Linked DNA regions of Homo sapiens: all the other regions are linked to region 1. Evidence: fine-mapped expression QTL. A gene starts in region 1. Each other region holds a variant in brackets. All regions are shown on one strand. Distances are from middle to middle.

Evidence for each region. PIP is the estimated chance that this variant, and not a neighbour inherited with it, causes the effect.
Region 2: its variant is fine-mapped to the expression of DRD4 in thyroid (GTEx, PIP above 0.99). The same link has a PIP of 0.9 or more in breast, hippocampus and lung.
Region 3: its variant is fine-mapped to the expression of DRD4 in testis (GTEx, PIP above 0.99).

The regions. Positions count from the first base shown.
Region 1 is chr11:631,127-641,458 of GRCh38, reverse strand. It overlaps DRD4 (dopamine receptor D4), which reads right to left and starts at 4,190. Exons shown (of 4, transcript NM_000797.4): 1 at 3,870-4,190; 2 at 1,914-2,026; 3 at 1,153-1,811; 4 at 753-1,058. The coding sequence starts at 4,154. The coding sequence ends at 856. RefSeq lists enhancers at 43-654, 655-1,266, 1,632-2,165, 2,166-2,700, 2,701-3,234 and 4 more.
Region 2 is chr11:676,225-686,556 of GRCh38, reverse strand. DEAF1 (DEAF1 transcription factor) reads left to right here. Exons shown (of 12, transcript NM_021008.4): 6 at 1,594-1,659; 7 at 5,468-5,594; 8 at 6,741-6,869; 9 at 7,735-7,863. Among named protein-coding and RNA genes, the nearest start is that of DEAF1, 14 kb to the left of the region's middle. RefSeq lists enhancers at 6,951-7,451, 9,379-9,878. The variant G/A (reference allele first, on the strand shown) is at 4,184.
Region 3 is chr11:578,641-588,972 of GRCh38, reverse strand. PHRF1 (PHD and ring finger domains 1) reads right to left here. Exons shown (of 18, transcript NM_001286581.2): 2 at 7,367-7,481; 3 at 6,892-7,011; 4 at 1,509-1,714. The coding sequence starts at 7,460. Among named protein-coding and RNA genes, the nearest start is that of PHRF1, 7.3 kb to the right of the region's middle. RefSeq lists enhancers at 4,209-4,708, 4,709-5,210. The variant C/G (reference allele first, on the strand shown) is at 5,851.

The sequences.
Region 1 (10,332 bases):
GGGCCCTGGGAGCCGCCCCTCTTCCCCCAGGGTCAGGGGCTGCACTGGTTGATGGAGCCAGGGTGCAGACAGGCAGCTTGGGTCGCTCTGCCCAGCCCCTGGCCCCGCTGCCGCCTCCCTGCTCCCACCCCTTGGCCCAGCCACATTGGTGGACGCTGGGCAGAGGTTGGCTGGGCACCAGGGGTGACTGAGCACGGAGCTCCCTCCAGGGAAGCCACTTGGTGGGGCCCCACCCATCACCACAGGCCCCTTGCTGTGGGGCTTGGGGCATCCTCTGGCCAGGGACTGGCAGGAAGCTAGGCTCTGGCCTCAAGGCAGCTTCTAAAATGACAGGTTGGGCTCCCCTGCCGGGGTCTGCTGGGGCAGCATGAGCCTGGAGCCCCCTGTGCCTGGTTCTCAGAGGTGGGAGTTGGCCCGGGCAGGGCCTGGCGGCTGACAGCCCCCCACCCCGCCTCTCCCCATTTGTTTCTTCCCATCGGAACTGGGCTTCCCCAGGAGACACCTTGCCCTGCTGGGTGCTGCTTCCTCTCCCCTGCAGAGAGGGGAAGCTGGGCCCCAGCGCTGCGGAACTGAGTGGCTCTCGGGGGCCCCTTCCCCCCTCACCCTGAGCAGGCGGCCGGCTTGGTGGGGTCTGCTCTGTGGGCTTCCTTGGCGGGGAGAAAGAGGTTAACTGGCTGGGGGGCCTGGGGCCACTGAGGCAGAAACCCCTCTTCCCCACTCCCCATCAGCCCCCAGGAGCCTTCACAGCTGAGTTTGGGAAGGAATTTGTTTAATTAACGTACAAAAGCGCCCTCCCCATCTCCTTGGTCCCTGAGGCCTGGCCATCAGGCCGGGGGGCGTCCGGGGGTGCCCGGCTCAGCAGCAGGCACGCAGGGCCTTGCGGAAGACGTTGCGGAACTCGGCGTTGAAGACAGTGTAGATGACGGGGTTGAGGGCGCTGTTGACGTAGCCCAGCCAGGTGACGGCGCTGACCAGCCGCGGGGGCACGGAGCAGGCAGGACACAGCGCCTGCGTGATGTGCACCACGAAGAAGGGCGTCCAGCACAGCAGGAAGGCCCCTGGGGGCGCCGAGAGCCGCGTTAGCGCCCCCCGCCCAGCCGGCCTCGTACCCCCCCCCTCCTCTCCTCCCCGCCCCTCAGGACAGGAACCCACCGACCACCACCGGCAGGACCCTCATGGCCTTGCGCTCCCGGCCGGTGATCTTGGCACGCCGCCTCCTGCGGGTCTGCGGTGGAGTCTGGGGTGGGAGCGCGGCGGCTCTGACGGCGTCGGGGGGAGCACAGTTGGAGCCGCAGGGGTCCGGGGGGAGGCCGGGCGCGGGGGGCGCACAGTCGGGGCCGCAGGGGTCCTGGGGGAGGCTGGGCGCGGCGGGCGCACAGTCGGGGCCGCAGGGACCCCGGGGAAGGCCGGGCGCGGGGGGCGCACAGTCGGGGCCGCAGGGGTCCTGGGGGAGGCGGGGCGCGGGTGGCGTGGGGGAAGGCGGGCCAGGGCCGCTGGGTCGGCGGGGCGCGCGGCCGTGCAGCTTGGCGCGACGTGCCACCTCCCAGCGCTGCAGGCCGCGGAACGTGGCCCAGTAGAGCAGCAGCATGAGCGGGCAGGGTAGGAAGAAGGAGCACACGGACGAGTAGACCACGTAGTCGCGGTCCTCCAGGCGGCACACGGCGGGGTCGCGGCCGCGCACGTCGTTGAGGCCGCACAGTACGGGCGCCGCCACCGCCGCGGACAGCAGCCACGTGGCGCCGATGAGCAGCAGCTGCCGGCGGCTCCCACCCTGCCGGTTGTAGCGCAGCGGCACGGCCACGGCCACGAACCTGCGGGGAGCGCCGAGGGGGCGCCGGACAGCGCACAGGCCGCGGTGAGGGCGGCGGGCGGGGCGCGGGGGCGCCGGGGCGCGGGCGGGGAGGGCGGCGCACCTGTCCACGCTGATGGCGCACAGGTTGAAGATGGAGGCGGTGCACAGCATGACGTCCATGGCCATGAGGGCGTCGCACAGGCGGGGGCTCAGCAGCCACGCGCCACCCTGGACCTGCGCGGCGACACCACAGGCCCTGAGGTTTCCCAGCCACCGCGGGCCCTTGTGACCCGCCCCCACTCTTATGGGTAGTTCCAGGGCTGAATACGGAGAAGGGGGCCCGGCTGTGAGCCAGAGGCCAGAGGACCGGGCAGGGAAACACCCCTTCCCCACGCAGATCTCCCTTTGTTTTGAGTTAGGGTCTCGCTGTGTCACCGCGGCTGGAGTGCTGTGGCTCCATCATGGCTCACTGTAGCCTGGAATTCCTGAGCTCAAGCGATCCTCCCACCTCAGTCTCCAGAGTAGCTGGGATTACAGCCGCGCGCCACCACCCCCGGCTGATTTGTTTTTCTTTTTGTTTTTTGAGACGGAGTTTCGCTCTTGTTGCCCAGGCTGGAGTGCAGTGGTGAGATCTCAACTCACTGCAACCTCCGCCTCCCAGGTTTAAGCGATTCTGCCGCCTCAGCTCCCCCGAATAGCTGGGACAACAGCCGCAGCCACCACCCCCGGCTGATATTTTAAAATTTTTTGTAGAGACCAGGCCTGGTATGTTTCCCAGGCTGGTCTCAAACTATCCTCCTGCCTTTGCCTCCCAAAGTCCTGGGATTACAGGCGTGAATCACGGCTTCTGGCCTTGGTCTCCCTTTTGTTACAAACATGAGAACGGCCTGGGGAATTCCCTGGGGGCGGGCCTGATATCATCGGGCTCAAAGGGAGCCCCTCCCCAGCCTGGGGTAGGCAGGGTCCCCGCTGGGCCTAGAAGCGAAGCTGGCTGCTCTGTTGGCTAAGTTCTCTGTGGGAGACTCGGGCACGTTAATTCATTTCTGTTTCTTCATCTGTAAGACAAGGGTGATGATAGTATCCACATCATAATTGTCTTGAAGATAAATTATAATTAAAAATATGAAGACCGTGCCCAGTGCCCAGCGTAGGACTCCACGTGGAGTGACTCTCTCCAAGGGCAAAGGAGCAGGCAGCCCCTCTAATCCTTCCCGCCGATTTGGGGAGATTAGGAGCTTAAACGTCGTCACTGTGACGTCTGCGGCTCGAAAGGAGCACAGGTCACGCGTGTCCCGTGCTGCTGGTCTCTGCCCCAGCCGCCTGGATTCACTGTGTCCATCAAGGGGAAACCTCGAGTCCCCCTCCCCCACAGTCGGGGACACCGCGTCTCCAGCTCAGCCCTAAGCTGCTTTTCTCTGGCCGCAGAGGGGCTGGCACCAAGGCCGACCCACTCGAGGGCCAGACCTGGTGTGGAGTGTGGGCTCCATCCCCCAATTCCCCCTCAGGCTTCCCCCCAGGGTTCTCAGCAGGGGCCTGGTCCCCACACACCCTCCCCTCCCCTGGGTTTTGTCCAGCCCAGGTCTCCCCTGCGAGCTGTGAGCCTCCTTCTGGGGGTGTGCCAGCATCTGCACTAGGTGTGTGTGGTGGGCAGTGGCTGTGGCAGTGTGTGTGTGTGTGTGTCCCACGGCAGCCAGGGGGCTGAGCCTGCATCTGCCTGTCTGTCCAGCTGGCTGCCCTGGAGGTGAAATCCAGCTACGGAGGGGACTGGGCTTGACAAAGTCGCCTGTTTCCGGGGTCCCTGGATAGAAGGACGGGCATCTCCTGGATAACAGACGCCAAGACAGACGGGGAAGGAGAAGAGGAACGAGGGTCGGGGGACAGACAGCGCAGCGGGTGGAAGGTCGCGAGGTGGCGGCGGTGGGTGTATCGCCGAGGGACAAGGCGCAGCGCCCCTGCCGCCGCCCCAGCTGGAAGCTCCGCACCAGAAAGGGGCCGGGTCGCGCCGGGTCCTCCGTAGGGACAGGGACGGGGAACCGAGGAGCAGGTGAGGATGCTCGTGCGGCCGGACGCGGCTCACCTCGGAGTAGACGAAGAGCGGCAGCACCAGGAGAGCGAGGAGGAGGTCGGCGGCCGCCAGGCTCACGATGAAGGAGTTGGTGGGCGTCTGCAGGGCGCGCTCGGTGGCCACGCTCACGCACACGAGCGAGTTCCCCGCGAGCACCGCGCCGATGAGCAGCACGCCCCCCACCAGCGCCGCCGCGCCCTGCCCAGCCAGCCCCGCAGATGCCCCCGCAGATGCCCCCGCGGCCGGCCCGCGCCCAGCCAGCAGCCCGTCCGCGTCCGCGGTGCTGCGGTTCCCCATGGCGCGCCCGGGCGGGCGCTGAGCACCGCGGACAACGCCGGGTCGCAAGCCGGGGAGTCCCTCCCCTCGGGCACGCCCCGGCCGGACCCTGGTCCCGCCCCCGACCCGCCCCGGCTCAGGGGGGCCCCCGCGGCGCTCCACCGTGAGCCCAGTATTTGCTCATCTTGGAATTTTGCGCAGGGAGAGACGGGCACGTGGACGAATGCGGCGGCCCAAAGAGACGGGAATGAAGCGAGGTGGTGGCCACGGGCAGGCCAGCATCGCCCGGCGCCGCGCGGGGTCCGCGACCCGAGAAACCGACAAGGATGGAGGGGCGGCCAGACCAGGCCCTGAAGCGCGCGGGCATCGACGCCAGCGCCATCCTACCCGGCCCGTGCGTGCGTCCCGGCCCTCGGGCGCTCACCCTAGTCCACCTGGTATCTGGCAAAACCTCCCTCCCAGGCCCGTTCCGCCAGACGCAGAAAGACCTGAGCTCAGGCTCTGCCCGCCTCCCCCGCGGACTCGCCTCGACCTCGTGCGCACCCTCCACGCCCGCTCCCCCTGCCCCCGACTCCGCGCCCGACTCAACCGCCGACGCCTAGCTCATCCCGCCGCCCCCCCCCCGCAGCCTCTGGCCCTCAGCCCCCGCGACCACCACGGTCAGCCGCGGCCCCACCCGTTGCACAGTTGATCCTCGCGTGGCCGCCTCCGAAACTGGGCGGACAGCTGAGCGGTCGACCCCGCTCCCTCCTCCATTCCCTCCGGCCCAAGACCGTGAGCTAGGTAGGCGCCCCTCTGACCCTGGGCAGGGGGTCCCGGGACCGGACAGTAGGTTCGGCTCGCGAGGAGGCCAGGAGAAAGACACGACAGGCCGGGGTAGGTTCCAAACGTGCAGAAGAGAAAGTGCTTGCAAAGCGCAGCAGAGAATTCTATGGACTCTTCACCAAAGAGGGGTGACCTGTGACCTGAGAGGTATTTTCTGTAGTCTGTCACTAAGGGGCCTAGAAGACACTAAAAGGGGGCACCACTCTGTGGGACCCCAGGCGGCGCACATCCTGATGCTCTAGTCTGTTTCTGGGAGGCCTGGAGTGGAGGGGCTGTGCCAGGAATTGAGGCCCCTGACCTCGAAGGTCTGGAGGACACGGGCTAGACGGAGGCGCTGACAGGGCGTGCGTTAAAGGGAGAAATGAGGACTCTGAGAAGGAGCAGGCACCGTGAGCCTCACAGGACAAGGTCACGGGGCTGCGGGGGAAGGGCCTGCACCAGGGACAGGTGTGCACAGGCATCAGGTGCGGCCGCAGCCAGGCTCAGTCCCTCTTGTGCAGATCAGTCTGCTGCCCTTGTGAACCCTTGAGCAAAAGAAGTCACCACAGGAGAGACCACCAGGGACAGGTGTGCACAGGCATCAGGTGCGGCCGCAGCCAGGCTCAGTCCCTCTTGTGCAGATCAGTCTGCTGCCCTTGTGAACCCTTGAGCAAAAGAAGTCACCACAGGAGAGACTGGGACAGTGGAAGTTTCTTCTCTCCCAGGATGGAACCGGGGAGGGTGGCCCTGGGGTCTCCGGCTGGGCGCCAAACGGCGAGTCCAGCCCAGCCTCTGGTCGGCTTAGAGTTCCTTCAAGTAGCCCCCAAGATGTCTGCGACCACCAAGAGTGAAAACCAAGCTAGGCGGAGAAAGGATGTGTGCAGCACACATCTCTGACACACAGATCCAGAAACAATGGAAACAATGAGAAAAGACAGACAACCCCAATTTGTTTTTTTTTTTTTTTTTTTTTTGAGATGGAGTTTCACTCTTATCACCCAGGCTGGAGTGCAGCAGCACAATCTTGGCTCACTGCAACCTCCGTCTCCCGGGTTCAAGCGATTCTCCTGCCTCAGCCTTCTGAGTAGCTGGGATTATAGGCGCCCGCCACCACGCCCGGCTAATTTTTTTGTATTTTTAGTAGAGACACGGTTTCATCATATTGGCCAGGCTGGTCTCGAACTCCTGACCTCAGGTGATCCACCTGCCTCAGCTTCCTAAAGTGCTGGGATTACAGCTGTGAGCCACTGCCCCCAGCCTCCACTAAACTTCTGTTGTTTATCTGAAAATCAAATGTAACTGGATGTGATCACATCTTACTGCAATCATGGCTCACTGCAGCCTCAATCTCCTGGGCTCAAGTGATCCTCTGGCCTCAGCCTCCTGTACAACTGAGACTACAGATGCGTGGTGCCACACCCAGCTAATTTTCTTATTTTTTGTAGAGACGGGGTCTCGCCATGTTAGCCCAGCCGGTCTCAAACTCCTGGGCTCAAATGATCCTCCCACTTCAGCCTCTCAAAGTGCTGTGATTACAGGCATGAGCCATACAGCCAGCCTAAACAATTTTTAATGAGGACCTCCACTCATACCTTACACATTAAAAAATTAACTCAAATATGCTGTCAGGAGAATCAAAAGACACAGACCAGGAAACGACATTTGCAAATGGCCACGTCTGGCAATGTTTCTTCCATTTTAGTGTAGTAGGACGTCGTTGATTTTCCTGATGGCTACTCATGTTTGACCACTTTTCCCATGTGCCTGTTAACTGTCAGCATGCCCTCTTCTGGAATGTGCCTGTTAAAAATCTTTGCTTTTGTTAAAAATTGGGTTGTCTACGCCAGGCGCAGTGGCTCACACCTGTAATCCCAGCACGTTGGGAGGCCGAGGCAGGTGGATCACCAGGTCAGGAGTTCAAGACCAGCCTGGCCAACATAGTGAAACCCCATCTCTACTAAAAATACAAATAATTGGCCAGGCGTGGTGACTCACGCCTGTAATCCCAGCACTTTGGGAGGCCGAGGCAGGCAGATCACAGGGTCAGGAGATCGAGACCATCCTGGCTAACACGGTGAAACCCTGTCTCTACTAAAAAATACAAAAAAATCAGCCGGGCGTGGTGGCGGGCACCTGTAATCCCAGCTACTGAGGAGGCTGAGGCAGGAGAATGGCATGAACCCGGGAGGCGGAGATTGCAGTGAGCCAAGATTGTGCCACTGCGCTCCAGCCTGGGTGACAGAGCAAGACTCCGTCTCAAAAAAAAAAAGCCGGGCGTGGTGGTGTGCACCTGTAATCCCAGCTGCTTGGCAGGCTGAGGAAGGAGAATCACTTGAACCCAGGAGGCAGAGGTTGCGGTGAGCGGAGATCACGTCATTGCACTCTGGCCTGGGAAACAGAGCAAGACTCTGTGTCAAAAAATAAATAAATAGGCTGGGCGAGGTGGCTCATGCCTGTAATCCCAGCACTTTGGGAGGCCGAGGCAGGCAGATCACGAAGTCAGGAAATCGAGACCATCCTGGCTAACACAGTGAAACCCTGTCTCTACTAAAAATACAAAAAATTAGCCAGGCGTGGTGGCGGGCACCTGTAGTCCCAGCTACTCGGGAGGCTGAGGCAAGGGAATGGCGTGAACCCGGGAGGCAGAGCTTGCAGTGAGCCAAGATCGCACCACTGCACTCCAGCGTGGGCGACAGAGCGAGACTCCGTCTCAAAATAAATAAATAAATAAATAAATAAATAAATAAATAATAAATTAAAATTAAAAAAGAAACAAATTTTTTTTAAAAATTAGCAATCATATATCCAGCAAATGGCTTGTATACAAAAAAGATTAATAATTCTCAAAACTCAACAGTAATGATATCACAAAAAGAAAATTCCAAATGAGTATCCTTTATGAATATAGATGCAAAAGTTCTCGAAAAAATATGAGCAAACACAGTCCCTTTTAAAGTGCTGCCTGCCAGAAAAGCAGCATTTTTTTTTTTTTTTTGAGATGGAGTCTCACTCTGTCACCCAGGCTGGAGTGCAGTGGTGTGATCTCGGCTCACCACAACCTCTGCCTCCCGGGTTCACGCTATTCTCCTGCCTCAGCCTCCTGAACAGCTGGGACTACAGGCACGTGCCACCATGCCCAGCTAATTTTGGTATTTTTAGTAGAGACAGGGTTTCACTCTGTTGGCCAGACTGGTCTCAAACTCCTGACCTCATGATCCGCCCACTTTGGCCTCCCAAAGTGCTGGGGTTACAGGCGTGAGCCAGTGCCTGGCCGAAAAACAGCATTTTTAAAAGGATTATGTACCATAACCCAGTGGGATTTATCCCAGGAATGCAAGGGTGAACGAACAGACGAAATTCAATGTCATACACCACATTAACAGAATGAAGAAAAACCCACGCGATCATCCCAACTGATGCAGAAAAAACCATTTCATAAAATTCAAAACCCTTTCATGATAATAAGACTCAATAAACTAGGAATAGAAACAAACTTCATCAGGCCGGGCGCCGTGACTCATGCCTGTAATCCCAGCACTTCGGAAGGCCGAGGCGGGTGGATCACTTGAGATCAGGAGTTCAAGACCAGATGCCCAACATGTTGAAATCCCATCTCCACTAAAAATACAAAAATTAAAATTAGCTGGGCATGGTGGCGCACGCCTACAGTCCCAGCTACTCAGGAGGCTGAGACACGAGAATTACGTGAATCCAGGAGGTGGAGGCTGCAGTGAGACGAGATCGCACCACTGCACTCCACCCTGAATGACAGAGGGGGACTGTCTCAAACAAACAAACAAAATACAAACACAGCTAACATCATACTCAATGGTGAGAAACAAAAAGCCTTTGAAAGAGACAAGGATGCCCACTGCTGCTGCTTCTGTTCAACATTGTTCTGGACATTCTAGCAAGAGCATTACTCAAGAAAAAGAAATTAAAGGTATCCAAAATTGGAAAAGAAAACTATTTCTACTTGCAGATGACATGGTCTTATGTATAGAAGATCCTCCACAACAGGCCAGGCTTGGTGGCTCAAGCCTGTAATCCCAGCACTTTGGGAGGCTGAGGCGGGCGGATCTCAAGGTCAGGAGATCGAGACCATCCTGGCTAACATGGTGAAACCCCGTCTCTACTAAAATTACAAAAAATTAGCCGGGCGTGGTGGCGGGCACCTGTAGTCCCAGCTACTCAGGAGGCTGAGGCAGGAGAATGGCGTGACCCTGGGAGGCGGGGCTTGCAGTGAGCCAAGATCGTGCCACTGCACTCCAGCCTGGGCAACAGACCAAGACTCTGTCTCAAAAAAAAAAAAAAAAGAAAGACACCCCATCTCTACTAAAAATACAAACATTAGCTGGGTGTGGTGGCGTGAGCCTATAGTCACAGCTTTTTGGGAATCTGAGGTGGGAGGATCCTTTGAGTCCAGGAGGTTGAGGCCGCAGTGAGCTGTGATTGAGCCAACATATTCCAAGCTGGGCAACAAAGTGAGACCCTGTCTCAAAATAAAATAAATAATGAAAATGAGTAAAGGACTTGAATAGACATTTCTTCAAAGAAGATACCCAAATGGCCGGGTTCAGTGGCTCACGCCTGTAATCCCAGCACTTTGGGAGGCCGAGGCAGGCGGATCCCTTGAGGTCAGGAGTTCGAGAACAGTCTGGCCAACATGGTGAAACCCCGTCTCTACTACAAATACAAAAATTAGCTGGGTATGCTGGCGGGCGCCCATAATCCCAGCTACTTGGGAGGCGGAGGTGGGACAATCGCTTGATCCCGGGAGGCAGAGGTTACAGTGAGCCAAGAACACGCCACTGCACTCCAGCCTGGGCAACAGTGCGAGACTCTGTCTTAAAAAAAATATGGCTGGGCACGGTGCCTCACATCTGTAATCCCAGCACTTTGGGAGGCCGAGGTGGGCGGATCATGAGGTCAGGAGATGGAGACCATCCTGGCTAACATGGTGAAACCCCGTCTTTACTAAAAATACAAAAAAATTAGCCAGGCATGGTGGCGGGCACCTGTAGTCCCAGCTACTCAGGAGGCTGAGGCAGGAGAATCGCCTGAACCTGGGAGGTGGAGGTTGCAATGAGCCGAGATCGCACCATTGCACTCCAGTCTGGGTGACAGAGCGAGACTCCGTCCCCAAAACAAACAAACAAACAAAAAATATACATATGTCACACACAAATGGCCACAAAGCACTTGAAAAGATGCTCAACCTCATTAGTCACTGGGGAAATGCAAATCAAAACCACAGTAAGATACCATTCCATATCCATTAGGATGGCCATGGTAGTAAATAAATAAATAAATAAATAAATAAAAATACCAAGTGTTAAGGATGAGGAGACATTCACTGCTTTTGGGAATATAAAATGGTCACTGTGAGAAGAAG
Region 2 (10,332 bases), 45 kb before region 1:
AAACAGTAGAAGTTAAGATAATCGCTTCTGTTTGAATGCGTGTGACCCTTTCAAAGTCACCTAACTTCTCGTCAGTCTACTAAGAAAAGAGGACTTCTAATTCCTATTCCAGTTTAGCTCCTTGGGTGTTGTTAAGGAAGCAATTCCTGTAGAGACTTTTGCAAATCTTGAAAGGAAAGAGGTAGGTCCTGCCACCAATAATGGCATTGTGAAAAGGAGAAGGCTCTGGAAATTACTGTTTTTGTGGTTTTTTTTTTTTTTTTTTGAGACAGAGTCTCACCCTGTTGCCCAGGCTGGAGTGCAGTGGCTTGATCTTGGCTCACAGCAACCTCCACCTCCCAGGCTCAGAGGATTGTCCCACCTCAGCCTCCTGAGTAGCTGGGATTACAGGTGCCCGCCACCACACCTGGCTTTTTTTTTTTTTTTTTTAATTTTCAGTAGAGATGGGGTTTCACCATGTTGGCCAGGCTGGTCTTGAAGTCCTGACCTCAGGTGATCTGCCTGCCTCGGCCTCCCAAAGTGCTGGGATTACAGGTGTGAGCCACAATACCCGGCCTATTTTTTTTGTATTTTTTAATAGGGACAGGGTTTCACCACGCTGGCCAGGCTAGTCTCGAACTCCCGACCTCAAGTGAGCCACCTGCCTCGCCTCTCAAAGTGCTGGGATTACAGGCGTGAGCCACAATACCCGGCCTAATTTTTGTATTTTAATGGAGACCAACCATGTTGGTCAGGTTGGTCTTGAACTTCTGACCTTAAGTGAGCCACCCGCCTCGGCCTCCCAAAGTGCTGGGATTACATGTGTGAGCCACCACACCTGGCCTGGGCATTACCTGATTTCTCACAATTTTTTTTTTTTTTGAGGCAAAGGCCTCCCTCTGTTGCCCAGGCTGGAGTGCAGTGGTGTGATCTCAGCTCACTGTAACCTCTGCCTCCCGGGTTCAAGCGATCCTCCTGCCTGAGCCTCCCAGGTAGCTGGGACTATGGGCATGCGCCACCATGCCCAGCTAATTTTTGTATTTTTAGCAGACACGAGGTTTCACCATGTTGGCCAGGCTGGTCTCCAGCTCCTGAGCTCAGGTGGTCTGCCTGCGTCGGCCTCTCAAAGTCCTGGGATTACAGGCATGAGCCACCATGCCCGGCCCTGATTTTGCAGAATTTTTATCTTTATGAGGTTGGGCACGGTGGCTTACGCTTGTAATCCCAGCACTTCGGGAGGCCGAGGCGGGCAGATTGCTTGAGGCCAGGAGTTCGAGACCAGCCTGGTCAACATGGCAAAACCTGTCTCTACTAAAAATACAAAAATTAGCTGGGTGTGGTGGTGCAAACCTATAATCCCAGCTTCTTGGGAGGCCGAGGCATGAGAATTGCTTGCGCCGGGGAGGCAGAGGTTGCACTGAGCCGAGAACGTGCCACTGCACTCCAGCCTGGGCAACCCAACAAGACTCTGTCTCAAAAAAAAAAAAAAAAAAAAGAATTTTTATATTTATGAATGGTAGGTAAGTGGTAAAAGTGGTTGAAATCTTCTATTATTGAATGATTGACATTTAGGGGCTGACTTGCTAATGCATGGTGGTTCTTTTCACATCTCAGGATGGGATCTTAAACCCTCACGCTGCCTCTTGCACCTGTGCTGCCTGCTGCGACGACATGACCTTAGTAAGTGGCCAGCGTGTCTGGAACAGGATGACTTGGTGGGGCTGGGGGCGGCTGAGTGGGTCCCACAGCCCTTGGCCTCTCGGCTGTTTCCCTCCTGCCCTCTGCCTTGGAGAGAGACACTGTCCTCACTTCTCCTGGGTTGCTCTGTTCCCTCCTCCCTGATACGTCACAGTGAATCCTGATGTCTCGATGGGGAACACGTGGTTGGCCCCCAAGATGTTGCTCAAAGAACATTTGTGGAAACCTTAAATAATGAAAAGCGGTTATAATGTCACCGCCTTAACTCTAAAACTAAACATACACGCTTTTCCTTGTATGCATGCCATTTTATATTCCTCATTTTGTAACATGTCAGAAAAATGCTACTGTAAACTTATTCATGTGTAGAGCTTTTAACGCCTTTTTGACGTATTTCCTTATTCTAAATTCTTAACTGCTTCACAAAGACCCAAAATAATTTTTCTTTCTTTTTTTTTTTCTGAGACGAAGTCTCATTCTGTCGCCCACACTGGGGTGCAGTGGCGCGGTCTCGGCTCACTGCAACCTCCGCCTCCTGGATTCAAGCACTTCTCCTGCCTCAGCTTCCCGCGTAGCTGGGATTACAGGCATGTGCCACAATGCCCAGCTAATTTTTGTATTTTTAGTAGAGATGGGGTTTTGCCATGTTGGTCAGGCTGGTCTCAAACTCCTGACCACATGTGATCCGCCCGCCTCAGCCTCCCAAAGTGTTGAGATTACAGGCGTGAGCCACTGCACCTCAAAAAAAAAAAAAAAGAGCATGGAGAGACCTACCGTGTTCTTGGGGTGAAACACTAAACATCCTAGAATTGTGTAGTTGATATATAGATTTCATGTGATTCTAGTGGAAAAAACAATTTTGTGAACGTAAAATAATTTTGAAGTTGATTGGGAAAAGCCAGTCGGTGAGACTCTTAGAGACGCTGCAGGAGTAAAGGAGCCGGGAGGAGACGTCGGTCCCATTGGCAGTTGAGCCTGCAGGTAGATCATTTGCAGGGGCTCCAACACTGAAGTACTTAGATGTCAGTCTAGGAAATCATGTACAGGGTTTGTACGTGGAAGATACTAAAGAAAATGCTGAAGAGAGAGACCAGGGAAGATTGAAATACGTCAAAAGACGTCCTGCGCCCGTGGATTAGAAGACTCAGTAAAGATGCGACTTTTTCCCAAGTTGATTCGTAGGTTTAACACAATGACTATCAAAATCCCAGCAGGATTCTTTTTAGATGCAGACAAGCTGATTCTAAAATTTGCATAGAAAGGTAAAGGAAATAAAAAAGCCAAAACAGTTTTGAAACAAAAAAGCCAAAACAGTTTTGAAATAAAAGTTTAAAATGGGTGGAATCACATTGCGGGGTCTTAAGACTTACGGGCTCGTGACAGTAATCAAGATAGTGTGGCACTGGCAGAGGGAGAGACCCCACGATCTGGGTCAGACTAGAGTGTCATAGTAGACTCCAGCAAATGGCCTTGGAGTGACAGGACGTTCATCAGCAGAGACAAAGGATGACCTAAACTTCACACTTGGTACAAAAATGAATTCAAAATGGGTCATCGATCTAAAGTGAAAGGTGAAACTATAACATTTTTAGGAGAAAACACATTGGAAAATCTTCCTGACCTGGAGTTAGAACTAGGATTTCTTGGATTGGACTTCATCAAATTTTAGAACTTTTGGCTTCCGCTTGGGGAGTGGTGGTGTGATGAGCTCAGTGGACCAACTCTCCAGAGAAATAACTAGTGAAAATTGTGAAAAAATAACCCCTTAAGGTCTCCAGAAATTGTCCTAGGGGAGTACAGCAAATAAACATCCAAGAAAATGTAGTAAGTCTTGGAAAGGGCAGTGAGGATTGTGACGTTTGAGCTACGACCAGCTCCTTCCCTCCCTTTCTGCCCCCAGCTCCCTATGGTGGAGGCTCCATTGTGGGTGGTTGTGACCAAGAAAACGGTTCCCACTCCTTGCAGTTCCCGGTCAAGGGATATGGTATCTCACTGGGAGGGGCAGGCCACCAGCATTTCTCAACCCCTTCAGCTCTAAGTTGCAGTAAATTCCTGGGAAGTGTGACTGAAAATCTCTTCAGTCATCCCCACTCAGAGGGCAGAGGCTTTACCCAGGCATGGGAGGCCAAGCATACGGAGCCCCAATTTCCATCAACCCACATTGCCCATAGGGTGGGGTGTCCATGCAGTGAGAGGCTGCTGCCCCCCACACAGAACCCGGCTAATGCAACAGAATTCCCTCTGATAGACTCAGGCACTGTTCCTGCCTCTAGGTCTATAGTAGGGGCTCAGACATTCAGCCCAAAAGAGAGAGAGGCCGTAAGAACAGAGAGCTCCAAAGCCCCTCCCAAAGGAACTGACTTGATTTGAAACAGTATGGGGATGTTCAAGCCTAAAAGTGCCCTGGAAAAGAATGGACATTTTGATGGTAAGCAGTTAAGAGGAGGCCAGCAGTTCCATTAGAGCAAGAAACTAAACTGTAGGTCAGCAGGTTTACCAGAGAGGC[G/A]AGGAAAGCCACAGCGAAGAACCCATCTGGGAAACCGACCTTCAAGATCGAACCTCTCAGTAAAGAAGCCCTAATTTAATTGGCTCAGACAGTGGAGCAGTGTGTGCCCCAGGGCATTGTTGAAAGTAATGGAGCAGGCAGCTGGCAGTTAGTTGATTCTGACACTTGACTACACCAACAGCTTAACAGAGATCAGGAAGAGCGACAGCCAAAACTCCCACCACCAAAGGTGATTGCACCCCACCCAGGGCCGAGCCCTCAGAGGAGCAGCAGCCGAGGCCGCCCCAGGAGAACAGGCTCAGTAAGATAGTCCAGCTCCGTACCTGAGTAATAAACAAGCTGACAGCAGCAAGGATCCCAGAGAAAGGAGAACTGCTTTCCACTGTTGCTACAATGTATCACCTGCGGTGTCTGATTCTTAACAAAAGATGATAAGACATGCAAGGAGCCTTGGACCATACACAGGAAGAAAGCAGGCAACAGAAATTGCCTGGAGAGGTCCGGATGTTGGGGTTAACAGGAAAAAGCTTTAAAATGGCTATCCTCAGTATGTTCAGAGGACTGAAGGAAACCACAGCTAGAGATTGCATGGAAGGTCTGAAGACACTGTCTCCTCACTGGAGAATGTCAATGAAGAGATATAAATTATTTAAAAAAAAAAGTCGGCCGGGCGTGGTGGCTCACGCCTGTAATCCTAGCACTTTGGGAGGCCGAGGTGGGCAGATCACGAGGTCAGGAGAACGAGACCATCCTGGCTACCATGGTGAAACCCCGTCTCTACTAAAAATACAAAACACTAGCCAGGCTTGGTGGCGGGCGCCTGTAGTCCCAGCTACTCGGGAGGTTGAGGCAGGAGAATGGCATGAACCCGGGAGGCAGAGCTTGCAGTGAGCCCAGATTGTGCCACTGCACTCCAGCCTGGGCAACAGAGCGAGACTCTGTCTCAAAAAAAAAAAAAAAAAGAAAGAAAGAAAATTAGCCGGGTGTGGTGACACATGCCTGTAATCCCAGCTACTCAGGAGACTAACGCAGAATCACTTGAACCTGGGAGGCGGAGGTTGCAGTAAGCCAAGATGGCGCCACTGCACTCCAGCGTGGGCAGCTAGAGTGAAACTCCGTCTCAAAAAAGAAAAAGAGGTGGGATCTTTAGGGGCGCTTACCATCTTAATGTGGTCTCACCATGTGACTCACACACCCCGCGGTGCCCCCACTTAAGGAGGAGTTGCAAGCGCAGCATAGCTTTTGCACACATGAAGGTGGTGGCCTCTCTCCTTTCTCCCCCAGAGTGGCCCAGTCAGGCTTTTTGTGCCTTACAAAAGGCGCAAGAAGGAGAATGAACTGCCCACAACTCCCGTGAAGAAGGACTCCCCCAAGAACATCACATTGCTTCCAGCCACCGCGGCTACCACCTGTGAGTTTGAGAAAACACAGCTCTAGTTTACTGAGGGGACCTGAGTGCATTGCCTTCTCTCGTCACCACTCCCACGGCCACTGCGGGATTCTCACTTCTAAAGCACATTGCGTGGCCAGAGGGATTCCAACGCCATCACACTCCTTTGCAGTGCGTCCCCCGGGTGGGAAGGGGTGTCCCAGTGCCCAGCTCGGTCTTGCTTCCCTGGGACCCGGACACTGTTGGCCTTGTCCTGGGCTGTTTCCTAGTATGAGTGAGCATGGCTGAGTGCCCAGCACACGCTCAGGGGACGTTTCCTGACAAGGGCGTCCTTGGTGAGGGATTCTCAGTGCGCTGGACGAGGGCTGCGGAGAGCTCTGTGGGTCTTTCTCTGTGGCCGGGCTGGAGGGCGGCGTCAGGATCCCGGCTCGCTGCAGCCTCGGCCTCCCAGGCTCAGGCACTGCTCTCACCTCAGCCTCCCAAGTAGCTGGGACCACAGGCACGTGCCACCATGCCCAGCTAATGTTTTTATTTTTTTGTACAGACAGGATTTAAATGGGGAGAGGTAGCAATAGGAGAAAATGTCTTTGTAATAGGCTTTTGTTAACTAAGTCTGGGTTTTTGCATTTATAGAGTAAGGTCTTTCTAAAACACCCTGTCAGCTCCTTCCTGAGGCCCTGGGTGGTGGGTGCAGGAAGAGTCCCACAGCAGCAGAGTCTCAAGATCTGTCGCCAGGATTTTTTTTTGAGCTGGAGAGGCAGCCTTGCTGTGGGACACAGGGCAGCCTTGCTGTGGGACACGGCTGCTTTTTACCTTCAGCTTGGATTAAAGATTTTTTCTTAATTCGAACCACGAAGTACTTAAAAATCACTGAAAGTTTTATTTTATGTTTGTTTTCTGGCTGGGCAGCACATTTCCATGGTTCACAGTTTAAACAGCGAACAATTGGTAGTGGCAAGTTGCCATCCTGGCCATCCTGGTTTTCTCCTGTGAGGTCTTCTCCAAGGTCTGGGATTTCCCCCGTGTCCTTCACATGGGAGGGTACAGTTACCACTGCCCGCCCTTCAGCCCAGGCCCCCACAAGGATTGGCGCCCGTGGGTGGCACGGGACCTGTGTGCCGTGGGCGCCACTGCCTGGCCGCGTGAAATGTGCTTCTGCCTTTCCAGTCACCGTGACCCCCTCGGGACAGATCACGACCTCGGGGGCACTGACCTTTGACCGAGCGTCCACGGTAGAGGCCACTGCTGTCATATCAGAGAGTCCGGCCCAGGGCGACGTCTTCGCAGGGGCCACAGGTGAGCTGCTCCAGTGCCTGCCTGACGCGTCCTCAGCATATCCCTGTCTGTGACATCACATCCCCGACGCCACATTGGGCTGCATAGGCTGCTGGGTGCCTCGAGAGGGGCCTTGAACCAGGCGTTTGTTGGTGGGGACAGCGTGTGAGCCACGTCAGGTGGGCGGTGCAGTGTGGATGGGGTTGGCGTGTGGCAGTGGGTTACTTGTGACAGATGCCAGAACTGGCAAAGCTGAAAATACTCTCTGTCTGCCGGCTCCTGCTTTTGACTGCAGTTGTGCAACAGAAATGCAGCCTAGCTGGTTGTGTGCTGGAGAATATTCTAGAAGCCACACTGAGGAAAATAGAGTTAGAACTGATTTTTTTTTTTTTTTGAGGTGGAGTCTCGCTCCATCCCCCAGGCTGGAGGGCAGTGGCATGATCTCGGCTCATTGCAAGCTCCGCCTCCCGGGTTCACACCGTTCTCCTGCCTCAGCCTCCCAAGTAGCTGGGACTACAGCGCCTGCCACCATGCCCGGCTAATTTTTTTTTGGTATTTTTAGTAGAGACAGCGTTTCACCATGTTAGCCAGGATGGTCTCTATCTCCTGACCTCGTGATGCGCCCATCTTGGCCTCCCAAAGTGCTGGGATTACAGGCGTGAGCCACCGCGCCCGGCCTGATTTTTATAATCTATTTTATTTCACCTGATATAGCCCCAATCCTATTATGTCAACGATTCAGGATCACCACATTTCAGGGGCTCAGTAGCCACGTGTGGCCATAAGCTACTATGTGTACTGAATGGCGCAGCCATACAGCGTGATATTTAGAGTCTGCTGTGCGGACAACCATCCCGAGCCTCCCTGTCCTTTTTCTCCCCAACAGTCCAAGAGGCCAGCGTGCAGCCCCCATGCAGGGCCAGCCACCCTGAGCCTCACTACCCCGGCTATCAGGACAGCTGCCAGATCGCACCGTTTCCAGAAGCTGCGTTGCCAACGTCACATCCCAAAATAGGTAGGTTTGAAAGAATTCACACATGTACAGGTTATTGTCCTCAGAATTGCTTCCAATGAAAGAATTCCTAAGTGAAATGGGATTCATTTTGGTTTGGTTTGTTGTTTTTGTTGATGCATTAGATCAGTGGCTGGTAAAGTGTGGCCCACTGCCTATGTTTGTAAATAAAGTTTTACTGACACACAGCCACGTCCATTCATGTGTGTGCTGTGGAAGTTGCTTTTGGTACAGCAGCAGGGCACGCCCCTAGAAACCAGTTGGCCTGTGAAGCCTGAAGTTCTTTCTGGTGAGTTTGCTGTTGTCCTCTTGAGGGTAGACACTCCCCAGTGGCAGGTCTTGGTCTCTCCAGAGCTGGCATAGACATTCGGTATCTGGTGAAAGAAAGAAAAACCAAGGCCTAAATGTGGCCTAAATCTTTAAAATGACGATACACTGTAAATGCATTCTAACTTTGATTTTTCGTTTAACTGCACTTCTATTTTTTTGAGACTGAGTCTCGCTCTATTGCCCAGGCTGGGGTGCAGTGGCGCAATCTTGGCTCACTGCAACCTCTGCCTGGTTCAAGTGATTCTCCTGCCTCAGCCTCCCAGGTAGCTGGGATTACAGATCTCGAACTCCTGACCTCAAGTGATCCATCCGCCTCAGCCTCCCAAAGTGCTGGGATTACAGGTGTGAGCCACCACATGCAGCCAAGATTTCTGTATAATTATACGTTTTTTGTTTTTTTTTTTGAGACAGAGTGTCACTCTGTCGCCCAGGCTGGAGTGCAGTGGTGCGATCTCGGCTCACTGCAACCTCTGCCTGCCAGGTTTAAGCAATTCTCCTGCCTCAGCCTCCTGAGTAGCTGGGACTACAGGTGCACGCCACCATGCCCAGCTAATTTTTTTTTGTTATTGTATTTTTAGTAGAGATGGGGTTTCACCATGCTGGTCAGGCTGGTCTCAAACTCCTGACCTCATGATCCACCTGCCTTGGCCTCCCAAAGTGCTGGGATTACAGGCGTGAGCCATCGTGCCCAGCCATCATTATACTTTTTTAAAGGGTGCATATGATCAATACATGATTGATTGAACCCTCCCCTGCTGGTGGCAAATGCATGTTTTCCATTTTTCACTGTCACAGACAGCGCAAGAAACTTGTTCATGAAAAACTTACCTTTTCATTTTCATTTGCTTGTTTCATTATTCTCTCTTTTGCCTATCTAAACTCTTTCCATCTTTAAAGCTTACCTCAGGGCTGGGCGTGGTGGCTCATCCTTTTTTTGTTTTTTTTTTGAGATGGAGTCTTGATCTGTTGCCCAGGCTGGAGTGTAGACTTCAGGCACGCGCCACCATGCCCGGCTAATTTTTGTATTTTTAGTAGAGATGGGGTTTCACCGTGTTGGCCAGGATGGTCTTGATCTCTTGACCTTGTGATCTGCCTGCTTTGGCCTCCCAAAGTGCTTGGATTACAGGCGTGTGGCTTACCTGTTTAATCCCAGCACTTTAGGAGGCCGAGGCCAGGAGTTTGAGACCGGCCTGGGCAACATAAGGAGACCCCATCTCTATTAACTGGAAAAAAAAAAAAAGTGTGGGGTGGGTGTTGGTGAAGTATTTATACCAAGAAATCAGCAAATGCTTGAAATCAGAGCTTTTTCTCCAGGAGGGCTGGGGTTCGCATCGACCGCTTGCCCCTGGTACAAGGTGTGCATGTGGCTCCTGGATCTCTGTCCCCAGGTGCCCTTGGTGGGCAGAAGTCAGAAATGTTCTCATGTGCACGTGTGCGTGTTTGTGCTCCAAATCTGTGTGTGTTGAAAACCATGAGTTTGCCCCAGTGTCTCTAGTTCCAGTGCAGAACCTCAGGGTTTGTGCTAGTTCCTTTGTAACTTTCTTCTCCAATTGTAAGAAACCCCGCTGGGCGTGGTGGCTCACGCCGGTAATCCCAGCGCTTTGGGAGGCCGAGGCGGGTGGATCACCTGAGGTCAGGAGTCCGAGACCAGCCTGACCAACGTGGAGAAACCCCATCTCTACTAAAAATACAAAATTAGCCAGGCCTGGTGGCAGATGCCTGTAATCCCAGCTACTCGGGAGGCTGAGGCAGGCGAATCACTTGAACCCGGGAGGGCAGTGAGCCAAGATGATGCCACCGCCCTCCAGCCTGGGCGACACAGCGAGACTCTGATTTAGCCACTTCCCTCCCCTGGTCATTGTCCACGGCGCTGATTCTGCGAACATTTCAGGGTCCAGCAGCCGCATTCAGATGAGTTGTACAACATGGAGCTGGGTGGGTGGAGCAGGAAGGGATGGGACATCCTCCTGCCTGTGTTGCCTGCTGGGGGGATGTCAGGCTGAGTGCTCGGGGATGTCAGGTGCTGGGGGGATGTCGGGTGCTGGGGGGATGTCGGGTGCTGGGGGTGTCGGGTGCTGGGGGGATGTCAGGCTGCGTGCTGGGGGATGTCAGGTGCTGGGGGGATGTCAGGTGCTGGGGGTA
Region 3 (10,332 bases), 52 kb after region 1:
GTAAACACAGGGTTTCACCATGTTGGCCAGGATGGTCTTGATCTCTTGACCTCATGATCCACCCACCTTGGCCTCCCGAAGTGCTGAGATTACAGGCGTGAGCCACTGCACCCGGTTCCATTTGTAAGATTTCTATACTGACAAACTTGTTTGCAAATGCCCTCTTCTGCCCAATATTTATCTAATAAATGCCAGACAGAAAATACATAGCAAACACTGTATCTTGTTCCTCAATTTAAATGAAAGCTTCACTTGCCAAAAGAAAAATCTACAAAAAAAAATAAAAATAAAAATGGCCGGGCGTGGTGGCTCACGCCTGTAATCCCAGCAGTTTGGGAGGCCGAGACGGGTGGATCACCTGAGGTTGGGAGTTCAAGACCAGCCTGACCAACATGGTGAAACCCTGTCTCTACTAAAAATACAAAATTGCCCTGGCGTGGTGGTGGGCACCTACAGTTCCAGCTACGCGGGAGGCTGAGGCAGGAGAATCGCTTGAACCCGGAAGGTGGAGGTTGTGGTGAGCCAAGATCGCGCCATTGCACTCCAGCCTGGGCAACAAGAACAAAACTCCGTCTCAAAAAAACAAAAAAAAAAAGAAAAGTCTAAGTCTGAATCTACTGTGTGCTGTGGACCCACCACAACAGAACAGGAACAGGAAGTACCAGAGCCAGACTTTGGGTGACATCACAGCCTGCCACCACCAGCAGCATGAGGAATGTCTGGGTCCTGCTTCAAACTAAGCATACAGGCAGTTTTCAGCTACTCAGTGAAACAGAACAGGAGGACCCAGTCACTAGGAACCCTGGGTGAGGTCACGGTCCTGAAGAGAGCCGGGGACAGCACGGGCTGCTGGTGCAATCGCAGGGAGGGGAGGGAGTCAAGAGGTAGTGGTGTCGGAGCTGAGCCCTGAGTACAGAGGTCGGGGACTCATGAGTCATCCTCAGACTGCAAGCTCTCCTTTTCTGACATTTTTCACAATATTCAGAAAGGGAGGGGGGAGCTGACTGCTTCTAAAAGTTCATTTTGAAATATAAAATACACTGCACGTTTACGGTAAACTCTATTCACCTGTTTTAAGGACAGTCTCTTTTGATGCCAGTTATTGTGAATGAATGCCAAATCGTACCGGTGTTTTCTGTATCAACTGAGAGAACCACATGTCAAGGCAGCAAAGTGACCACGCACCACAGCACACCTGCCTCTGGCTTGCAGGCCAAGATGGCCCCTATGTCAACCAGGGTTTCTGCAGCTGGTCCTGGGAGACCCACGGCCATCCTCTCTCCTGCCCCTGACCAATACACCACAAACGCCTCACATGAGCTCACCCACACCCCCAAGAGCCATGGTGCTCACAAAGCAAAGACCAAGCCAGACTCAATCCTGTGGCCCCAGGGTCAGCCGCAGAGCAGACAACTAGAACCTCACAAGAGGCTGAACACAGGCTGGGTCACCTATAAACAGGGAGGCCATCCTGAAGGGAGGAAGCACCCAACCAGAGGTGAACTCACCTTGGACCATTCGACAATGCAGTCCAGGCAGAAGTAATGGGCACAGTTCTCCGGCGTCCCCACGGCCTGGTCTCTGAATGCGTTGAGACAGATTGGGCAGCTCTCTGCATCATCATCAGAATTGAAAGAGCCAGCGGCTTCCAGTTTCCCCTGAGTACCCGCTACCTCCAGCAATGTCTCCCCGTCGTCTTCAGAATCCTCGGAACCTGGAGAGGAAACATGCCAGCTGGTGCAAGCAGGATGGGCAGCGTGAACCGCGGCACTGGAGGCAAGCGGGCCCAGGCTGCGCTCAGGACACCAGGTCGGCAATGCACAGCCCACCTCCCCGCAGGCTCCTGCCACTTACCTCCACGTCCACGCTCAGCACATCCACAACCCTGGGAGCCCTGCCCTGCACCTAACCTGAAGCCTCGGGTGCCCTGCACCGAGGGGCGGGAAGCTGAGCGTCCTGAGTGCCAGACCAGCTCCTCTAAGCTGAGCCTGGGGCTGAGGCAGACCTCGAGAGGCAGGGCAGCCCTGGGGCCTAGCACAGGTCCCAGAGACCATCAGGTTCATTTCAGAGCCTCCAAGCGAGCCCCTCAGTGCAGCAGCCCCCTGACAGCAGCCCCCATTTCCAACGCCCCCTTCTCAAAGCATGAGGACCACAAACCCTCTGCCCGCGGAAGGGACTTCCTTCTGAGGTTGCCTGTTCCTCCTCCCTGTGGGAGGCAGAGCACAGACTCCTAACTGGGCCACTAACCACAACCGTTCTGGCCAATTCGGAGTGGTTCTGAGGCTACACCTTGACCAGCAGGGAGCAGGGAGATGCTCCGAGTTCAACACGGCAGAGCCCATACGTGCACTGCTATCTTCTTTGTACCAAACTCCAATGAAACAACGCTAAAGTAAACAGAACACAAGTTCACATGGGAAGAGGAGCAGACTCGGTGTGGGTGGCAGGTTCCTCCTAGGCCCGAAACCCTCCAAACCCTCCCGGTTCCACGCATGTGGGCAGGACCCTGCCAGCACTGGGGCATCACTGCCAGGACCCTCTGTTATCTGGCAAAGGGAAAGACACACCCAGAACAGAAATATTTACACTGTTAAAGAGGCTGGGAGAAGTGAGAGCTGCGAGGGAGGCAGCAGAAGAGTTTTAAGTTCCCATCTTTCATGTTAAGAGTTGAAGAGCTACTGGCCGGGCGTGGTGGCTCACGCCTGTAATCCCGGCATCTTTGGGAGGCTGAGGTGGGCAGATCACGAGGTCAGGAGATAGAGACCATCCTGGCTAACAGTGAAACCCCGTCTCTACTAAAAGTACAAAAAATTGCCAGGCGTGGTGGCTCAAGCCTGTAATCCTAGTACTTTGGGAGGCTGAGGCAGGTGGATCACCTGAGGTCAGGGGTTTGAGACCAGCCTGGCCAACATGGTGAAACCCCGTCTCTACAAAAAATACAAAAATAGCCGGGTGTGGTGGCGTGTGCCTGTAATCCCAGCTACTTGGGAGGCTGAGACAGGAGAATCGCTTGAACCTGGGAAGCAGAGGTTGCAGTGAGCCTAGACTGCACGATTGCACTCCAGCCTGGGCAACAGAGCAAGACTCCGTCTCAAAAATAAATAAATAAATAAATATACAAAAAATTAGCTGGACGCGGTGGCAGGTGCCTATAGTCCCAGCTACTTGGGAGGCTGAGGCAGGAGAATGGCGTGAACCTGGGACGCAGAGCTTGCAGTGAACTGAGATCGTGCTGCTGCACTCCAGCCTGGGCAACAGAGCGAGACTCGACCTCAAAAAAAAAAAAAAAAAAGAGTTGAAGAGCTACTACCTCAAGCTGGAAAGGGCTACTACCTCAAGCTGGAAAGGGCTACTACCTCAAGCTGGAAAGGGCTACTACCTCAAGCTGGAAAGGGCTACTACCTCAAGCTGGAAAGGGCTACTACCTCAAGCTGGAAAGGGCTACTACCTCAAGCTGGAAAGAGCTACTACCTCAAGCTGGAAAGGGCTACTACCTCAAGCTGGAAAGGGCTACTACCTCAAGCTGGAAAGGGCTACTACCTCAAGCTGGAAAGGGCTACTACCTCAAGCTGGAAAGGGCTACTACCTCAAGCTGGAAAGGGCTACTACCTCAAGCTGGAAAGGGCTACTACCTCAAGCTGGAAAGGGCTACTACCTCAAGCTGGAAAGGGCTACTACCTCAAGCTGGAAAGGGCTACTACCTCAAGCTGGAAAGGGCTACTACCTCAAGCTGGAAAGGGCTACTACCTCAAGCTGGAAAGGGCAGTGTAACAAGTGATTTCCAGCAGGAAACACCAGGGTGGGAAAAGCAATGAGAACGAAAGCTCCCAAGCCCCAGCAACGTGGGTGTTGCTCGTGGAATAACTCCCTCCTCAACATGTTTCCCACCAGTTAGGGACCCACTGGCTACTTCTTCATGTTTAAAAAACAGTCCTGGCCAGGCGCGGTGGCTCATGCCTGTCATCCCAGCACTTTGGGAGGCCAAGGCGGGTGGATCACCTGAGGTCAGGAGTTCAAGACCAGCCTGGCCAACATGGTGAAACCCCATCTCGAATAACAATACAAAAATTACCCAGGCATGGTGGTGCGCGCCTGTAATCCGAGCTACTCGAGAGGCTGAGGCAGGAGAATCGCTTGAACCCGGGAGGCAGAGGCTGCAGTGAGCCGAGATTGCGCCACTACACTCCAGCCTGGGCAACAAGAGTGAAACTCGGTCTCAAAAAAAAAAAAAAAAAAAAAAAAAGGTCCTGGAGAAATAAAAAGAAGTGTTCACAGTGGCTATACCAACACCTCTCCAGTGCCTTCCCATCCCCTTCCTTCGGGGCGCTCAGCCCTCAGGGGCTCCAGGTCTCCATAAACCTGTCTCTTCACAGCTCCCCCGTCCTGGCCTGCCGCCTCTGCCCAGCCACCTCCTCCTGCCCCTCAGGTGGCAGCTTGGATTCTCCAGAAGCCTCTCCCCACCCCAGGTCCATGGAGCCTGCCCCTCCCCTGGACGCCCACAGCTCTCAGTGTCTATGACCCTGTCCCCCAGCTGCTGCTTGGCGCACTGTTTGCTGCTAGAAGGTGAGCGCAGACACGGTGGGGGCCCTGCTGAGGCTCCCGCCACCTTCACTCCAGCCCCCAACCCAGAGTCTCTGGCATCCAATGTGCCCTCAGGATCTCAAGGACAGAGTCACCTGGCGGCCCTGACGGCCCACACTTTCAGCCCTGGCAACGCCAGAACTGGTGCGGAGACCTACTACAGATGAACCAGAGCCCTAACCTGATGCTGGGAGGGAGCAGGGAAGCCCCTCAGGACCTGCAGACCCAAGCAGACCCGCAGAGCACGTGCAGAGCTAAACATCGAACTCTGGAAGGACACGGCCAACACACATTGGCTCAGGCCATGAGTGCCATTCCCTTACCAACAGTCTCAAACAGGAGTGTTACCTTTCTGGAACATTCTAACCCTGATAACCACAGGGCTATGCAGAAAGACTGCTACACACAGATCACAGTAGCCACTTGAGGACCATGGATTTTCCAGCCCAAGGGTGATGTCAGAAGGAAAGTAGTGGAAAGGCAAAGTTCTGAGCCTGAGCTCGGCCTCCCTCTGAGGAAGCAACCACAGCAGGGCCGGGGCAGGGCCACCTCCTTGGTGGCCTCACAGGCTGTGCACCACCGAGGGTGATGGCAACAGGGGACAAGGAAGGAGGTACCACCAGCGCACCCCACGGACTTGTCTCCCCTTTGTTTTGTTTGAGATAACGTCTCGCTCCAACACCCAGGCTGGAATGCAGCCTCAACTTCCTGGGCTCAAGGGTCCTCCCACCTCAGCCTCCTGCGTAGCTGAGACCATGGGCCTGGGCCACCACACCCAGCGCAGACCTGCCCTTTGGAACATTGTTCTCTCAAAAGAAGTTCAAGGGCACAACCATCAGCCAATTGTAAGTGAGCTGAGAATTTTTTATCTTTTTGAGACAGAGTCTCGCTCTGTGGCCCAGGCTGGAGTGTGGTGGCGTGATCTCAGCTCGCTGTAGCCTCGACCTCTTGGGCTCAAGCGATCCTCCAACCTCAGCCTCCTGAGTAGTGGGGATTACAGGCACGCACCACCACGCCCGGCTAATTTTGGTGGGGTTTTTTTGTTTGTTTTTTTTGAGACAGAGTCTCGCTCTGTTGCCCAGGCTGGAGTGCAGTGGCGATCTTGGCTCACTGCAACCTCCGACTCCCGGGTTCCAGCAATTCTCCTGCCTCAGCCTCCCAAGTAGCTGGGATTACAGGCGCGTGCCAACACGACTGGCTAATTTTTCTATTTTTAGTAGAGACGGGGTTTCACCATGTTAGCCACAATGGTCTCGATCTCCTGACCTC[C/G]TGATCCGCCCGCCTCGGCCTCCCAAAGTGCTGGGATTACAGGCGTGAGCCACCGCGCCCAGACAGCCAGAATTTCTTTTTCTTCCTTTGAGATGGAGTCTCGCTCTGTCGCTCAGGCTGGAGTACAATGGCACAATCTCGGCTCACTGCAACCTCCACCTCCTAGGTTCACACCATTCTCCTGCCTCAGCCTTCCGAGTAGCTGGGATTACAGGCGTCTACCACCACACCCGGCTAATTTTTTGTATTTGTAGTAGAGAGGGGGTTTCACTATGCTGGCCAGGCTCGTCTTGAAAAAAGGCCGGGCGCGGTGGCTCACGCCTGTAATCCCAGCACTTTGGGAGGCTGAGGTGGGCGGATCACGAGGTCAGGAGATCGAGACCATCCTGGCTAACGCGGTGAAACCCCATCTCTACTAAAAATACAAAAAATTAGCCAGGCTTGGTGGCGGGCGCCTGTAGTCCCAGCTACTCGGGAGGCTGAGGCAGGAGAATGGTGTGAACCCAGGAGGCAGAGCTTGCAGTGAGCCGAGATCGCGCCACTGCACTCAGCCTGGGCGACAGAGCGAGACTCCGTCTCAAAAAAGAAAAAAAAGGAGGACTACAGGCCAGGCACAGCGGCTCACTTGAGGTCAGGAAGAGTTCCAGACCAGATGGTGAAACCCCGTCTCTACTAAAGATACAAAAAGTAATTAGCCAAGTGTCATGGTGCGTGCCTGTAATCCCAGCTACTCACGAGGCTGAGCCAGGAGAATCACTTGAACCCGGGAGGCAGAAGTTGCAGTGAGCTGAGATGGCACCACTGTACTCCAGCCTGGGCAACAGAGCGACACCCTGTCTCAAAAAAAAAAAAAAAAAAGAAATGAAGTACTACAAATAAAGTGAGCCGTCACCACAGCTGAATATAAGGCCTCACCGTAGGTGACCGCAGGGACATGGCCAGCTGTGGTGACAGCACTCTCACGGAGGATGTGTTATAAAAGGCTGTCCCCATCACGACAAGAGGAAACACAGGAGCCGGCGTGAACACCAGCTGTCTCACCAGATCTGTCTTCCAGGTCTTCCTCCTCAGACGCCCCCTCGTCTTCTCCGTCTGTGCCATCTCCATGCTCGCTGTCACTGTCGTCCCCAGAGTCCCCACTGCTGCCCACGCTGCTTTCTTCTAGACACCAGGGTGAGACACAGGCCGCAGGGCGGCGTCAAGACCATGCAGCAGAGAGCAGGTTGCTTTGCACAGGCATAGAGGCGTCAGGAGCACCTGCCAAACGGCTAACGGCTTCCCCAGGGCCGGCAAGGTGGGGGCACAAGCAAGGAAAGGGAACATCCTTTCGTTCAACATTTGTGTTGTTTGCATTAAAAATAAAACAAAACAATACACTACTTCCGCAATTTAAAATCAAAGCATAATTTTTTTAGACTGAAAGTTGACAAGTGACACACACAGACGACCTCCAAAGGGAAACACCAGGCACCCTGCTCCTCCTGGGGACGCCCCTACCCGGCGCTAGGCAGCTCACCAAAGTCACCTGCCGGGTCCGCAGGGCCGACCTGTGGGTGTCCATCCGGCCCTGGGCTCCGGGCCACAAGCTCATCCAGGCTGTCGTCATCCATTGCTGCACATTGAGCTCAGCTCTGAAAGAAAGAAGAGCCAAGCAACTTCCAAACTGTCCCAGGCTGCAAAGAACCCTCTGAAGAGTTATGACCTCTCCCCACAGGCCACATCCCCGTGTCACATCCACCGCCACAGCACGTGAAGAGTGAGCCCTGAGATATCACCCACAGAACAACTCTCAGCAGTATCCCCACAGGCCACACCCCAGTGTCCCAGTGTCACATCCACCGCCACAGCACGTGAAGGGTGAGCCCTAAGATATCACCCACAGAACAACCCTCACCAGTAAGCCTTACACATGATTCACATTTACAGAGCTACCCATAAAGCCAGATCCTAGCTGGCCACTGTACCCGGCCAGAAAATAAAAATTTGTTTTTAACTAAAAAAAAAAAAAAAATTGGTCACGCCTGTAATCCCAGCACTTTGGGAGGCTGAGGCGGGCGGATCACCTGAGGTCGGGAGTTTGAGACCAGCCTGACCAACATGGAGAAACCCCATCTCTACTAAAAATATAAAATTAGGCCAGGCATAGCTGCTCACGCCTGTAACCCCAGCACTTTGAGAGGCCGAGGCAGGCGGATCACCTGAGGTCGGGAGTTTGAGACCAGCCTGGCCAGCATGATGAAACCCCGTCTCTACTAAAAATACAAAAATTAGCCAGGCGTGGTGGCGGGCGCCTGTAATCCCAGCTACTCGGGAAGCTGAGGCAGGAGAATCGCTTGCACCTGAGAGGCGGAGGTTGCAGTGAGCCGAGATCGCGCCACTGCACTCCAGCCTGCGCAATAAGAGCAAAACTCCATCTCAAAAAACTGCAATGCTCCTGAGGAATCGCAACACCATATACGAACAAAACGGCCTCATCCTGAGCTGAGGCAGAGCCGGGCTTTATCAGCTGGGCACAAGAGGGGCCTCAGTGACACGTAGGGTGCTCTCCCTGCCAAGGCTGGCCACTGTTGGGATGCCTGGAGGCTCCTCTGACCGCACCCCAACCCCATCCACCAGGGTGCTGCTGAGTCCCCAGTGGTACCCAGAGCTGAGGAGGCAGAAGGCACAGAGGCCAGGCCCACCCCTCGGCTCCCAAGACCACTTGCTCAAGGCCCTGACCCGTCAGCCGGGACCCCTGCCCTTCCCACTCTGCAAGGTCACTGTGAAACCACACAGGATCCCGTACAAAGCCTTGGGAAATCTAGTTGGACACGCTCCTCCTTCCACACCAGGGCCTCAAACTTTGGTCCCAGATAAGAAAGGAGATACGTGCACGTGGTTCATTTCTCATCAGTGCTATTGACCTTGTTTCCCAGGCGACTCTCGGAGGAAAGGCCTGTCCTAGGAGAGTGAGTCAGGAATCCAGCGAGGCAGTGAAGCCGGCCCTGCAGCACTCTGTTTCCCACCAAGTCCAACCTCCATCCATGATCAGAGGAAAGCGCATCGCACAAGAGGCCAGGAAGTAGGGGGCCAGAGCTGCCCTCGAGTTCAGGGCCTCCTTGCATTGGAGCTCAGCTCCCACCACCACTGTGGGCTGCACATGTACCACAGCAACGGGGGAAAGTGGCTGTCAGCGCCACTGCTGTCTGGAAACCCCTGGACAACAAACCCTAACGGGGCTCAGAAACCAGGACGGCCTCACTTCCCATCTGACAAGACAGTGCAAAACCCTAGATTCTAAGATGATGCCTTATAAAACAGTGAAGAATGTCAACTCCATCCAACTGTCAACTGCCAAATCTTACTACTGCCTGGAAACAGCGATTGTAGAAGTAGTTTTGCCAAATTAGTAATTAACCTTTCTTCTACCTGCCACCCTAAGGTGAAAACACCTGGTCATGATCCCCGCTCAAGGCAGTCTGCACCCCTGGTGCTTGGTGGACCCAGCAACTCCGCAGAGACGCCCTGCTCGTCCCGCACCTGAATCCTAGAGACACTGGCTCTGAGAGACACACGAGGGCCACGGCCCATCCAGGAGGGTGACCCCTCTCCCACAGCATGCACTGAGACCTAGCAGTGACCACAGCTCTCAGATAAGAGGACCTTAACTCCCTGGCAATAGCTGTGACCACCCTGACAACAGACCCCACATCTTCCAGGACGCCTGCTCCAACACCTACCCTGCTCCTACTTTGTGCAGCACAAGGCGAATGCAGTCCCTGCCCTGGAGAAACATATCTGAAAGAGGGAGGCAGACTCTCTCACATGAATCTACCAAGGAACACTTCAAAGAGACCACCTAAGAGATAACAGAGCAGGGCTGGGGGGAGGAGCAGGGCTGGGGGGAGGAGCAGGGCTGGGGGAGTCCCAGGGTCCAACTGTCCCGAGTGCAAATCCTCATTTGATGATGAATTTCACATAGAAAGTAAAAAATGTGAATTGGTAGCCAGGTGCAGTGGCTCACGCCTGTCATCCTAGCACTTTGGGAGACCAAGGTGGGCAGACGGCCTGAGCTCCGTAGTTCAAGACCAGCCTAGGCAACACAGTGAAACCCCATCTCTACTAAAATAGAAAAAATGAGCCGGGCATGGCGGCGTGCACCTGTAGTCCCAGCTACTCCGGAGGAGAATTGCTTGAACCTGGCAGGCGGAGGTTGCAGTGAGCTGAGATCGCGCCACTACATGCCACTGGGCGACAGAGTGAGACTCAGTCTCAAAAAAAAAAATGTGAATCAGCCGGGCGTGGTGGCTCATGCTTGTAATCCCAGCACTTTGGGAGGCTGAGGCAGGCAGATCACTTGAGCCTGCAAGTTATGAGACCAGCCTGGGCAACATGGCAAAACCGTTAAAAACCAGGTAGGTGTGGTGGAAACCGCCTGTAGTCCCAGCTGCTCGGGAGTCTGAGGTGCAAAGATCACTTCAGCTCAGGAGTTCGAGGCTGCAG